Homo sapiens: one gene and its partners. The protein of the gene in region 1 interacts with the protein of each later gene in a pairwise test. Each region holds a gene or a part of one and is shown on either strand. Other genes may lie near its edges.

Region 1 (3,749 bases):
CCCCTGCAGCAGTCCAGGTAGCAGCTGGTGGGGCAGAAGCCCACTGAGGAGGGAGAAGGGGGTTGGCAGGATGGGGAACTGAGTGGCTAGAGAAGGGATGGCAAAAATTTGTCAAAGGCATCTCTGAGAGTTCCAAGACGTAGCGACTTTGTATATTAGAGCCACCAGGAGGGGAGGAGGAGAGAAGCTCAGTTTCAACATGTTGAGTTTGAGGTGCCCTTGAGGAACCCAGCTGGGAGTAAGGAGTTGACCTTGGGGATGACGCTGGAGCAAGATAATGGACTGGGGCTCACTGGCAGAGGGAAGGCAGGTATGAGCAGACGGGCACCAGGCTCTCAGAGCCCTGGCCTCCTGTTGAGGTGTCTTTGTTGACAGCTGGGGGACCTTGGGCATGCCATTTCACCTCTCTGTCCTCTCCTGTAAAACGGGCGTCATGATTTTTGCCTTGTAGGGGGGACCATGAGAATAAAAATGTTTTGAAAATAGCAAAGACATAACTAAGGTGAAGCATTACTCTCAGAGGGATAGTTGGAGCCACGGGGCGGGTGGCAGGCCAGGGCCCTATGGAAGGGGAGTAGGCAGAGGGAGGAGGCCGAGGCTGTGTGGCCAGGGCTGGATGTCCAGGCTGAGAGTGCCCTGGAGACAGGCTGTCTGTGGTTGGGGTGGGTTGGGCTTCTGTGAGCAGCTGCTGGGAGACGGGTGTCGGGGGAGTGTCAGGGGCCAGCGGGAAAGGCCAGAAAGGCTTGAGAGATGTAAGTAGTTGTCCAGTTGAGAGGGCAGCTGCAGGGACACCCTGGGAGGCATAACTGTGACCCGTGGGCACCCAGGGGACTTTGTTCTCTTGCCTTCTTCCCACCCTTAATATTATAATATCTGGGTTGTTCATCTGTGGGGAAGGAAGTGCTGCTGATCTTGATGGGAGGGAAACGTAGGCTCTAGCTCACCTTCTGGAGGCGGGGCACCAGGTTTGTACTGCAACCAGTGCCTTGGTCTGGTGGTGCGGCGCTGTGTAGCGGAAACCTGGCCCCTGAAAGTTCCTCCTCGCAGTGAGTGAGGCTGGGGAATGCCGAGCACTTGGTGCTGCCCCGAGCCCCTTTTTGGGCCAGCTCATGACTGAATGTGTGTGTTTCTGGGATGTGGGCTGGGGCCCCATTCTTGGGTGCAGCCCTTCTCCTTGCACTTCTCCTCCCAGAGCCTGCCAGTGGAGACACTGGGCCCGGCATCCAGGATGGACCCAGAATCTGAGAGAGCCCTGCAGGCCCCTCACAGCCCCTCCAAGACAGATGGGAAAGAATTAGCTGGGACCATGGATGGAGAAGGTACTGGGCCCTGCTTAGGACATAGCTTACCGGACAAAGCTATTCTCCATATTTTGGGGTTTCTCAGTTTCCTCAGAGAAAGGGAGGCTGGTTCGTTTTAGTTCCTCCATTAATCTCAGTTGACAAACTCCTTTTCTCATTCCATCCTGGCTTTTTCCTGCCTCTTCCAACCTGGTAGGGGCCCGTGGGATGGACAGAGGGCTGCAAAGGAAATTCAGCTGGGGCAGTGGGTTTTTCTGCGCCTTTTCTCCTACCGCAGGGACGCTCTTCCAGACTGAAAGCCCTCAGTCTGGCAGCATTCTAACAGAGGAGACTGAGGTCAAGGTGAGGAGATTTGCTGTGGGAAGGAAGGGAGGCGGGGAGGGCTAGCAGCTGCTCACTGCTGCATCTGCATTAGGGCACCCTGGAAGGTGATGTTTGTGGTGTGGAGCCTCCTGGCCCAGGAGACACAGTAGTCCAGGGAGACCTGCAGGAGACCACCGTGGTGACAGGCCTGGGACCAGACACACAGGACCTGGAAGGCCAGAGCCCTCCACAGAGCCTGCCTTCAACCCCCAAAGCAGGTGAGAGTCTTCCTTGCCTCTCCTGTCACTCTCCTTCTAGAAGGTATGGGAGAGGGATCAGCCATCACTACTGAGCACATGCTGTGGTCCAGGCCCTAGGGCTGAGCAGCTTGGTGCTCTCCTTTCTCACCACTACCCCTGGGACGTTGAGGCCCAGAAAGGTTGAATGACTTGACCAAGGTCACACTGCTGGTAAGGGGCAGGGCCCACATCTGGTTGACTCTTTCCTCTCTGCCATGGGGACCTCCTCTTTTCTTGCTTCCAGAATTCAACCCTCATTTCTGGAGTCCCTTCCTTGTGCTGGCCCTGGGCCTGGGCAGAGGGAAGATGGTTGGTTACCGCCTATGTAAGCGGCAGATCAGACTGAGCCAAGGTGCATATCAGACCTAAGAGTGGTACAGAACTGTAATTAAGGTACTCCCAAAGGAAGGAGAGGCCATTCAGTCAGGGGACTGGTTGAGGGCAAGGGAGAGGCTGGGACAGTGAGAGGTGACATTTGAGTGGAGCCCTGAGCACAGAGTAGGCTTTTGGTACGTAGGGCAGGGAAAAGAGAATGTTTTAGGCCAAGGCTGCAGCATCAGCAAAGGAGTGGGGACCACCTGTCTTGTGCTAAGGAGCTCTGTTCCAGGCTTGTGGCAGAGGAGTGTAGGAATTGGTCCCTGTTGAGTGACAGGATGGAGGGCCTGGGGGCCATTTAGGAGGCAACTGCAGTGGTCAGGCAAAGATGATGCAGACCTGGGCCAGGCATGGTGGCTCGTGCCTATAATCCCAGCACTTTGGGAGGCTGAGGTAGGAGGATTGCTTGAGCCCAGGAATTCAAGACTGCAGTGAGCCATGGTCATCCCACTTCACTCTAGCCTGGGCAACAGAGGGAGACCCTGTCTCTAAAGGAAATAAAAATAGGCGGCAGGGTGCAGTGGCTCACGCCTGTAGTCCCAGCACTTTGAGAGGCCAAGGTGGGTGGATCACCTGAGGTCAGAAGTTTGAGACCAGCCTGGGCAACATGGTGAAACCCCGTCTCTATTAAAAATACAAAAATTAGCTCGGTGTGGTGGTGCACGCCTGTAGTCCCAGCTACTTCCCAGCTACCTGGGAAGCTGAGGCAGGAGAATCGCTTGAACCTGGGAGGCGGAGGTTGCAGTGAGCCAAGATTGTGCCACTGCACTCCAGCCTGGGTTACAGAGGTAGACTCTGCCTCAAAAAATAAAAATAAATAAAATAAAATAAAATAAAATAAAATAAATAAAAATAAAAATAGGCTGGGTGTGGTGGCTCACACCTGTAATCCTCACACTTTGGGAGGCACAGGCAGGAGGGGCTGGGCTAGGGTAACCCACCTAGGCCAGGCGTCTGTCCTAGCATCCTCCCCCAAAAGGAATGTTTCCTATTTACCCACACATCCTGACCCTCCCCTCTCCCACTATAGTCAGGGCGTCTTCCCAGTTCTTGGTTCACATCCCTTGTGCTAAGGTTTGGGCCAGGGCTGGCATACCTGTTCCACATGGTACATGAAACATACATGGTATCACCTGTGATTGATTGGTGTGGTCTGCCTGGAGCACTGTGTGGAAAAGGATTTAAAGAACATGCCAGGTGCCATGATCAGTTAACACTGTTCCAGGTATGGGAGGTGGAAACAAGACTGTGAGAGCCACACATTGGCTATCCTTAGGTGAATCTAGGAAGTGTGTGCTTATATAAAGATGTAGATGCCGAGGCTCAGGATGGAATTTGGGGATCCCTGTGTCTCATTCATGATGGAGATGGGGTGGAGGATGAAAACCAAATCCTCTGGGTGTTCCAGGCAGGTGGATCACTTGAGCTCAGGAGTTTGAGACCAGCCTGGGAAACATGGCAAAACCCCGTC
Region 2 (3,749 bases), on another chromosome or scaffold:
GAAATGTTGATAATTAGACAAAACAATAACTGGAATTTCATACAAGTAAAAAATAGTTTTCCCATCTCCATGCAATTTTTATTAATAGTAGTAACACACTTAACAAAAACTCTAATTGCTAAGGCTATACCTTACATAAGACAGAATGTTCAACAGACTTACTTGTGAATATCTAAGTCCCATAATTTACTTTGCTCTTTCCTTAAATGCAATTTCAACCCATGGTTCCCATTGTCTTCCCCATCCTCTTTTGGCTTTTTAAAAGACAGGGATTCCCTGGATCCTGGATCTAGTACCTAATCCTCTTTTTTAAAACAAAAACAAAAACAAAACACTGAGTTTCTCTGTTGTCCAGTCTTGTCTCAAATTCCCGGGCGCAAGTGATCCTCCTGCCTCTGCCTCCCGAGTAGCTGGGATTACAGGTGCGCACTGCTGTGCCAGTTCTGGTACCTAATCCCTAGTTGGGTACTTAATCCTTACATCACAAGTCATTTGCAGAAAATATTTTCATTTCTATAATCATATTTGATGCCAAAGTTATGTTTCTAGGCTATCTCCTCTAGCCATCTTTTAGATCCAGAATGTAAAATAAATTTAAACAATGTGGTTTTGGGGTACGGGAACGAATGACAAATTGCAAAATAAAAACTGTTTTCAACTGTGAAATTTTAGAAGCCGGGCGCGGTGGCTCACGCCTGTAATCCCAGCACTTTGGGAGGCCGAGGCTAGTGGATCGCCCAAGGTCAGGAATTCGAGACCAGCTTGATCAACATGTTGGAACCCCGTTTCTACTAAATATAAAAAATTAGCCAGGCATGGTGGCGCATGCCTGTAATCCCAGCTACTCAGGAGGCTGAGGCAGGAGAATCGCTTGAACCCGGGAGGTGGAGGTTGCAGTGAGCCGAGATCGCGCCACTGCACTGTAGCTTGGGTGACAGAGTGAGACCCTGTCTCACAAAAAAAAAAAAAAAAAAAAAAAAAATTAGATTTCCTATTGTTCCCTTTAATCGCAATAAGCCTGACTGACCTATCTCACAGGGACCTCTAGAACACTAACTCAGTAGAGGAGGGGTGCAGGATTGATTTTAACAGAGTAAAAGAGAACCTAAGATGTGTTAACACAATTGGGTGATGAGAGGTCACGGTACATGAATAAAGACTGTAATTCTTGTTTTACTCCATTTGTCAGTCTCAGCAGTGAAAGGTGATTTCCAGGCGACTCTATAAACCAGTATCACCGGACCTACCTCCTCACAAACTGTAGAAAAGCGGTTGAGGAACTGTACAGTGTGCACCACAAATTGGTTTAGAAAAGCCACCGTTCTTTTCTGTTGAATAGCTGGCACCTGTGTTACGTAAAAACAAACATGGTTCATACAGGAGGAACGTACACAGTGCAAATCTTTTCATATTTGGACATAATCACGAGGCACTTTGCTGTGTGATATGAATTTCTTGAAGGACTGGGAATAGTCATTAACTTGTTTCCTAAGCTGTGGGTGGGGTGTCCGAAGATGACAGAGGTGCACAAAAGTTTGAGAACAGGCTCTAGACTCACTGGTACGAATTTTGGCAGGCAAAAAGCACCACACATAAACACACACAAAATCTTGGGGGCTGAATAAGAGGTAGGGCTAGCTATCGCAACCGGCGTGTGTCGCCGGCGGCAGAGAGACAAGCGAGATGGGAAGCGACAGTTGGGAGATGCACACCGTCTCCTTAATCAGCTCAGGAGGGACCCCATTTCAAGGTGGACTGTGGGGCTCTCCCTCCTGAGGCCCCACAGGCCTGTCACAAGGGCCCGAGGCCGTGACAGGGTGGGGACTCGGAAGGTGGGTGTCTCCCCGGAAAGCTGCGTCTTCCCCATCCTCCTCCCGGCTCGTCGGGAGTCTAGCACCGTCTTTTACAAACCTTGGTCAGGTCTATGCCTGACCCCATGAGAGGAAGCCCGTCCTCATCCATCTCCTCAGCGGGCGGTGGACCCCGAGTTCACCCACAAACCCCTCCCAGATGGGGCCCGCCCAACCCGGTAATCACGTCTCAACTTTCCCCCCAAGTGCCCGCCTCCGGGGCCCTTCCCGCCGGAAGAAAGCTTCTCCGCTCACTAATCACTCGGCGGCTTCCGGAGAGCCCGCCTCCTCGCTCGGCATTCTGGGATTGGTAGTTTTAGTCCAGATTGTGACGTCAATTTCGGGGTGGCGCGCGGTGGTGCAAGGATGCAGTTAGAGCACTGAAATCTTAGAAAGGAGGCAACAAAACAAAACAAAAAAACAAAGCCAGAAGTTGCGTCCTTTTGAGGTTATCCCTACTTAGTCCTGTCTGTTATATAATAACTCCGTCATTCCTTGAGCAACAATTTTTTTTTTGTTGTTGTTAATCCTAAGTGCCATATACTCTGCTAGGCTTTTACTGGGAAAACAAAGATTGAGTTTGATTGCTGCACGGGAGAGGTTTATGCCCTGAAGAATGAGAAATAAGACCTACTTCCAAAGCGTGTGTGTGTGTATACACACAAGTTCTCGCTATTTCCCCAGGCTGGTCTCGAACTCCTGGCCTCAAGCGATTCTCCTGCCTCAGCCTCACACGATTCTCCTGCCTCAGCCTCACAGAGTGCTGGGATTACAGGCGTGAGCCAACGCGCCTGGTCTTCCAAAGGTTTTTAAAACATGAAATAAAATGTCAACTACTAGATGTGAGGCACAAACCTACGGAAGTGACTGCCACTTACAGGGAGCATCAAAAAGATGAAGACCAAGACTGCAGTGGGCAGTTTTGTTTTAAAGATGGGGGGTCTCGCTTTGTTACCCAGTCTGGCGTGCAGTGAGGATCATAGCTCACCTTAGTCTCAAACCCTTTGGCTCAAATGATCCTCATGCCTTGGCCTCCCTAAGTGCTGGGATTATAGGTGTGAGCCACTGGCACCTGGCCTGTTGGTTTGGTTGAAGCAAATAATCCCATAAATGGAGAATGGTAGGAAATGAGGTAAGAGTGTTACTGGTGGAGGGTGTCCAGGTTCTTTTGAACAAAGAATTGGACAAAACGCACAAATCAAGGAGAGAATGAACCAACAAAAGCAAAGATTCATTGAAAACCAAAGTACGCTCCACAGTGTACTGGATACAGAATCTTCTTAGGTCCAAATACCCACTAGAGATTTCCCATTGGACACTGGTGTTCTCCTCATGCAAATGAAGTGGTGGCCCACAATCAGTCTGATTGGTTATGGAAAGCAACCAATCAGAGGCTGAAGTAAAATGACAAAGGTCATACTCCTATACAAACATCTGATTGGTTGTGGAAAGCAACCAATCATTGGCTAAAGTGATGTTACTTAGTTGCACTTCTATGCAAAGGAAGATTTGGCCCGCAATCAGTCTGATTGGTTGAGGTACTTTCAATTTCCATCTGCCTGTCAGAAAAGGTGGGGATTTGCAAAGGGAGTAGCCGCTGGTCCTTTTGTTACTTAGGTGTGGAAATTTGGGGTTTACCTTTTGATTTAGTTCTAGGAAGTCAGCGTGAATCGGCGTTAGGTTCCCTGCCTCCAGACCCTATTCTGCCTCAGGAGACGTAGCCAGAAAATTTTCGTTTAAGGGCCTTTTATGCCAGATTTGATACTATAGTCCATGTTTATCTAATGTGATTCATAGGCCATCTGTAGCAATTATTTGGGTGTGGGTGGTGTTTCTTAAAGTTGCACGTTGCCCAGCTTAACCTTAGCGTGATCACCTTCTCCTGATTGAACTTTCTTA
Region 3 (3,749 bases), on another chromosome or scaffold:
ACATGGACTTTCAGACAACTTGGTTTCATACTTCTGACCTCCAGAAATGTGAGAAGATAAAGTTCTATTGTTCTAAGCCCCTAAGTTCGTGGTAGTCTGTTATGACATCCCTAGGAACCTAGGAACCTAATATAGAGAAATAAAGGCTATGCTTTTTATGTGGCATGATGGAGATGGCCCCAGAATAGTGAAAGGCCATGGCTCTTCTCCTTCCATTGTGTACACAGAAAAGAACACCCCTTCGAAAGCAAAAGCAAAGGCCAGGCACGGTGGCTTATGCCTGAAATCCCAACATTTTGGGAGGCCGAGGCGGGCAGATCACTTGAGGTCAGGAGTTCAAGGCCAGCCTAGCCAACATCGCAAAACCCCATCTCTACTAAAAATACAAAAAGAATTAGCCGGGTGTTGTGACTCACACCTGTAATCCCAGCTACTCAGGAGGCTGATGCAGGAGAATCACCTGAACCCAGGAAGCGGAGGTTGTGGTGAGCTGGGATGGCGCCACTGCATTCCAGCCTGAGCGATAGAGTGATACGTCTCAAAAAAAAAAAAAAAAAAAAGCAAAAGCGAAAGCAAAGAAAGATTCAAGGGCAGATTTGCAGTGACTTATCATGTCTACAGACTGGGAAAAGCTGGTAGAAAAGAGGAGGAAACCATTCTCAGGAAACTCTACCTTTCAATTCCTCCAGTCATGAGCTCCAGGGTTGGATGCTCCCGCAATGGCAAAACTCCGCTCTCGTTACTGTCATGGGGCCACCACCACCCACCAAGCATCAGCCCATCTTTCCATAATGTCAAGTCTAGAGTGACATTTGTCTAATGTTTGCCTACCTGGAGATGTTGCCCCGCCCACCACCACCAGCAAAAACAACCGGCACCCATCTTATACGGATAATTCCCTACCTAAGGAGTTCTAGAAATGCATGGCCCACCAAAACTCAGGGTGGGTCATGCATTTCTAGAGGAAGAAATGGTGATATGGAGAGAAAGCTTGTCCTAACCCACTTCTACCAAAGTAGGATTAAAGTCAATTTGAAAAAAAACACCCGTTTCTCCTTTTATATAAAAACCAAATGCAGAAACTATAGAGAAATGTAATAAGCTTGACTCTACACAAATACCAAAATACACTGTAAACAAAATTAAAGGTAACTGACAAATTGAGGAAATATTTGCAACGTATATCACAAGCCAAGTTTTCAAGCATCAAAAGTCCTTACAAAACCCATTTTTACAAAGATGAATGTCAAGTTTTAAAATGGACAAAAGACAGGAAAATGCAAATCACACAATAAGGACAAATGGCACTCAAGATATGGGAAAAAGTCTATTCTTCCTACTAAAAAGGAAGTGAATACAATTAAAGATGCCAATTTTTGACAATAAAATGGGCAAAAAAATTTTAAGAAAAAAGAGAATTTCCAATGCGGGCCAAGTATCGGGACACTTACTGGAAGGCAGTTTCCCTCTACCTTTAGAAAGCCTCAAAGTGAGCATATGCTTTGGCCCTGCAACCTCGCTTGTAGGAATTTATCCTAAGGAAACAGTCAGGGGTGACCTCAAAGATTCATCTGCAAGGATATTCAACATGGCTTTGATGCAGGAAAAAAAGTAAATAAATAAAAGGAAACAATGTAAGTCTTCCTAAATTATGCCAAATTCCTATGCTGTCATTAAAAAACATCTATAACTCCATCATCTAGGTGATTTTGACTTTTGCTTTGGACTTGCCTGTACATTTCTAAATTCTCTATGCCAAACATGCATTGTTTTGTCATCAGATTTTGTTTTACAAAAAAAAAAAAAAAATCGTCTTTATGACAAGGGGTTAATAGGGGAACTGTGCTTCCCAGGAATTGACCAGGCGTCTACACCCACCTACTGACTCAAGTTACCTAAGACTGACAGAGCCTTAAGAGGTCAGGAGAGCGCCAGAGCGCGTGACAGGCTCCCTCGTCTCGGTGCGGCCACGCGGGAAGGCAGGGTCCCGGGCGCCGAACAGGGACGGCAGGAGGATCGTTTACAGACGTCTACACAAGAAACTCACTTCCCGTCACCGAAGACAAACGCGAGGCCACACTGACCTCCAGGCCCAAGACGCCCCTCCCCGCCGCGGCTCCTGCTGCCCGAGTGCGCATGCGCGCGCCCAGCCCCCGCAGGCCGGCGCTTCCCAGGAGGCCCCGCGCGCGGGTTTCCATGGGGACGCGCCGGCGCTGCGGCGTTGGCGCAGTCGTGGGAACAGCGCGGAGCAGGTAACGGCCCCGCTGCTGCCGTCGTCCCCCTCAGCCGGTTACCCTGTTACAGCCCCAGCTCTGGGCCCTTCCGGACCCTCCTGCTACGCTCTTTCTGGGCTTCCAGTATCGCCGGTCACTCAGTCCTCGCCCCTGCCTGCCTCGCTGGCGCCCCGCCGTTTCCTCCTCGCGGCACAGTTTGCCAAGGAACAGCTACCCCGGCTCGGCAGTGACCGGGCGCCCCGGCGACACACGTACTCTCAGGCCCGCTGGGCAGGGGGACGGCCTGGGCCGAGGTGACCTAGCGCTCCCGGGGCCGCGCCTGGGTCTGGCGAGGGGGCGGAGGCCGATCTCACCGCCGCCCCACCGAGGGAACTTTGGGGTTTTTCTATCTGAATCTTCTATCTGACCTCCGATTTTGCCTCTGCTTACTTGCTGTTTTGCTTTGGATTAGTTTTTCTTTCTAACCTTAGCGCTGGCATCTCCCTATCTCGTAGGAATCTAAATCTTTTGAAATGTCTTCTCTGTCTGTGTTTGTCCCCCACTCACCCAGCCTCGGGGCTCTTTATCCACACCCTCCCCTCAGCGTGTTAACGTTTCGTTGCCACACTTAAGCCAACGGTTAACTTTTTTCAGAGACCAGTTTTCACGGCTGAATGTGAGCTTGAGCCTTTTTTCTGTCTACACTCAATCCCTAGATGAACTCATCCAGTCGCCTGTACTCAGAGCCTATCTGAATTCCAGTGAGCCCCAAGTGTGCATTCCCAGCCCTCGCCCCTCCCCTGAACACCAGATCCCTGCATTTAGCTGCCTGCCACATCCCTACTTGGATGTCTACGGCATCTCAAACACAGCTCGTCCAAGATAGCGCTCAATAATTCCCCAAGCCAAGCCTGTCCTCCCACAATCTTAATCCATCATAGTTGCTGGAAATTCCATCCTCCAGTTGCCCGAGTCTTGCATCCTGTTTGAGTCCTGTTTTTCTCTTCCTCACCTTCAGTCTGTCAGCACTGCCTTCAAAATGCACCCAGAATAGATTCACAATTCTACCATTTCTCTCAACCGCCACTGTCACCACCTTGGTCCAGGCCCCCATCATCTGGTGCGTGGATTATTTTACTTGCTTCCTAATTGGTTTCCCTGAGTCTGCCCCTCCCCCACTTGAGCATGACAGTCTTAATGGTATTTCCCCGTTCTCTGTTATTTCGTATGAGTAAGTTTTTTAAAGGATTATATAAATTACAATTTCCTTATATAAATTACAACTTCCATAGGTAAAAGTGCAGTATTTTCAGTATGTATTTTGCAAATTGCAACTTTTAAACCGGGTCAGCAAGGCCATATAAGCATCCTGCTAACAAGCTAAAAATGTAAAGACACCCCTTAGCTTTGTTAGGTATAAATATGACAGTGCCCCTGGAACAGAACTATGGCAAGAGCTTTACAAGGGACTGTCCTGAAGAACAAAAGAACCCAGAGCCTTCTTCCCAGCGCAAAGACAGGAATCATGTAGGAGTT

Evidence for each region.
Region 2: the proteins of PBXIP1 (region 1) and WASHC3 interact in binary tests that used the Homo sapiens proteins (3 or more experiments, as listed by UniProt).
Region 3: the proteins of PBXIP1 (region 1) and LCA5L interact in binary tests that used the Homo sapiens proteins (3 or more experiments, as listed by UniProt).

Annotation. Positions count from the first base shown.
Region 1 is NC_000001.11:154,949,365-154,953,113, reverse strand, and holds part of PBXIP1 (pre-B-cell leukemia transcription factor-interacting protein 1), read left to right. Parts: intron 1-1,192; coding exon 1,193-1,319; intron 1,320-1,578; coding exon 1,579-1,643; intron 1,644-1,716; coding exon 1,717-1,882; intron 1,883-3,749. UniProt on the Homo sapiens protein: Regulator of pre-B-cell leukemia transcription factors (BPXs) function. Inhibits the binding of PBX1-HOX complex to DNA and blocks the transcriptional activity of E2A-PBX1.
Region 2 is NC_000012.12:102,060,001-102,063,749, forward strand, and holds the start of WASHC3 (WASH complex subunit 3), read right to left. Parts: upstream 1,992-3,749; 5' UTR 1,963-1,991; coding exon 1,912-1,962; intron 1,347-1,911; coding exon 1,248-1,346; intron 1-1,247. UniProt on the Homo sapiens protein: Acts as a component of the WASH core complex that functions as a nucleation-promoting factor (NPF) at the surface of endosomes, where it recruits and activates the Arp2/3 complex to induce actin polymerization, playing a key role in the fission of tubules that serve as transport intermediates during endosome sorting.
Region 3 is NC_000021.9:39,444,228-39,447,976, reverse strand, and holds the start of LCA5L (lebercilin-like protein), read left to right. Parts: upstream 1-2,198; 5' UTR 2,199-2,252; exon of another isoform or gene 2,253-2,527; intron 2,528-3,231; exon of another isoform or gene 3,232-3,333; intron 3,334-3,749.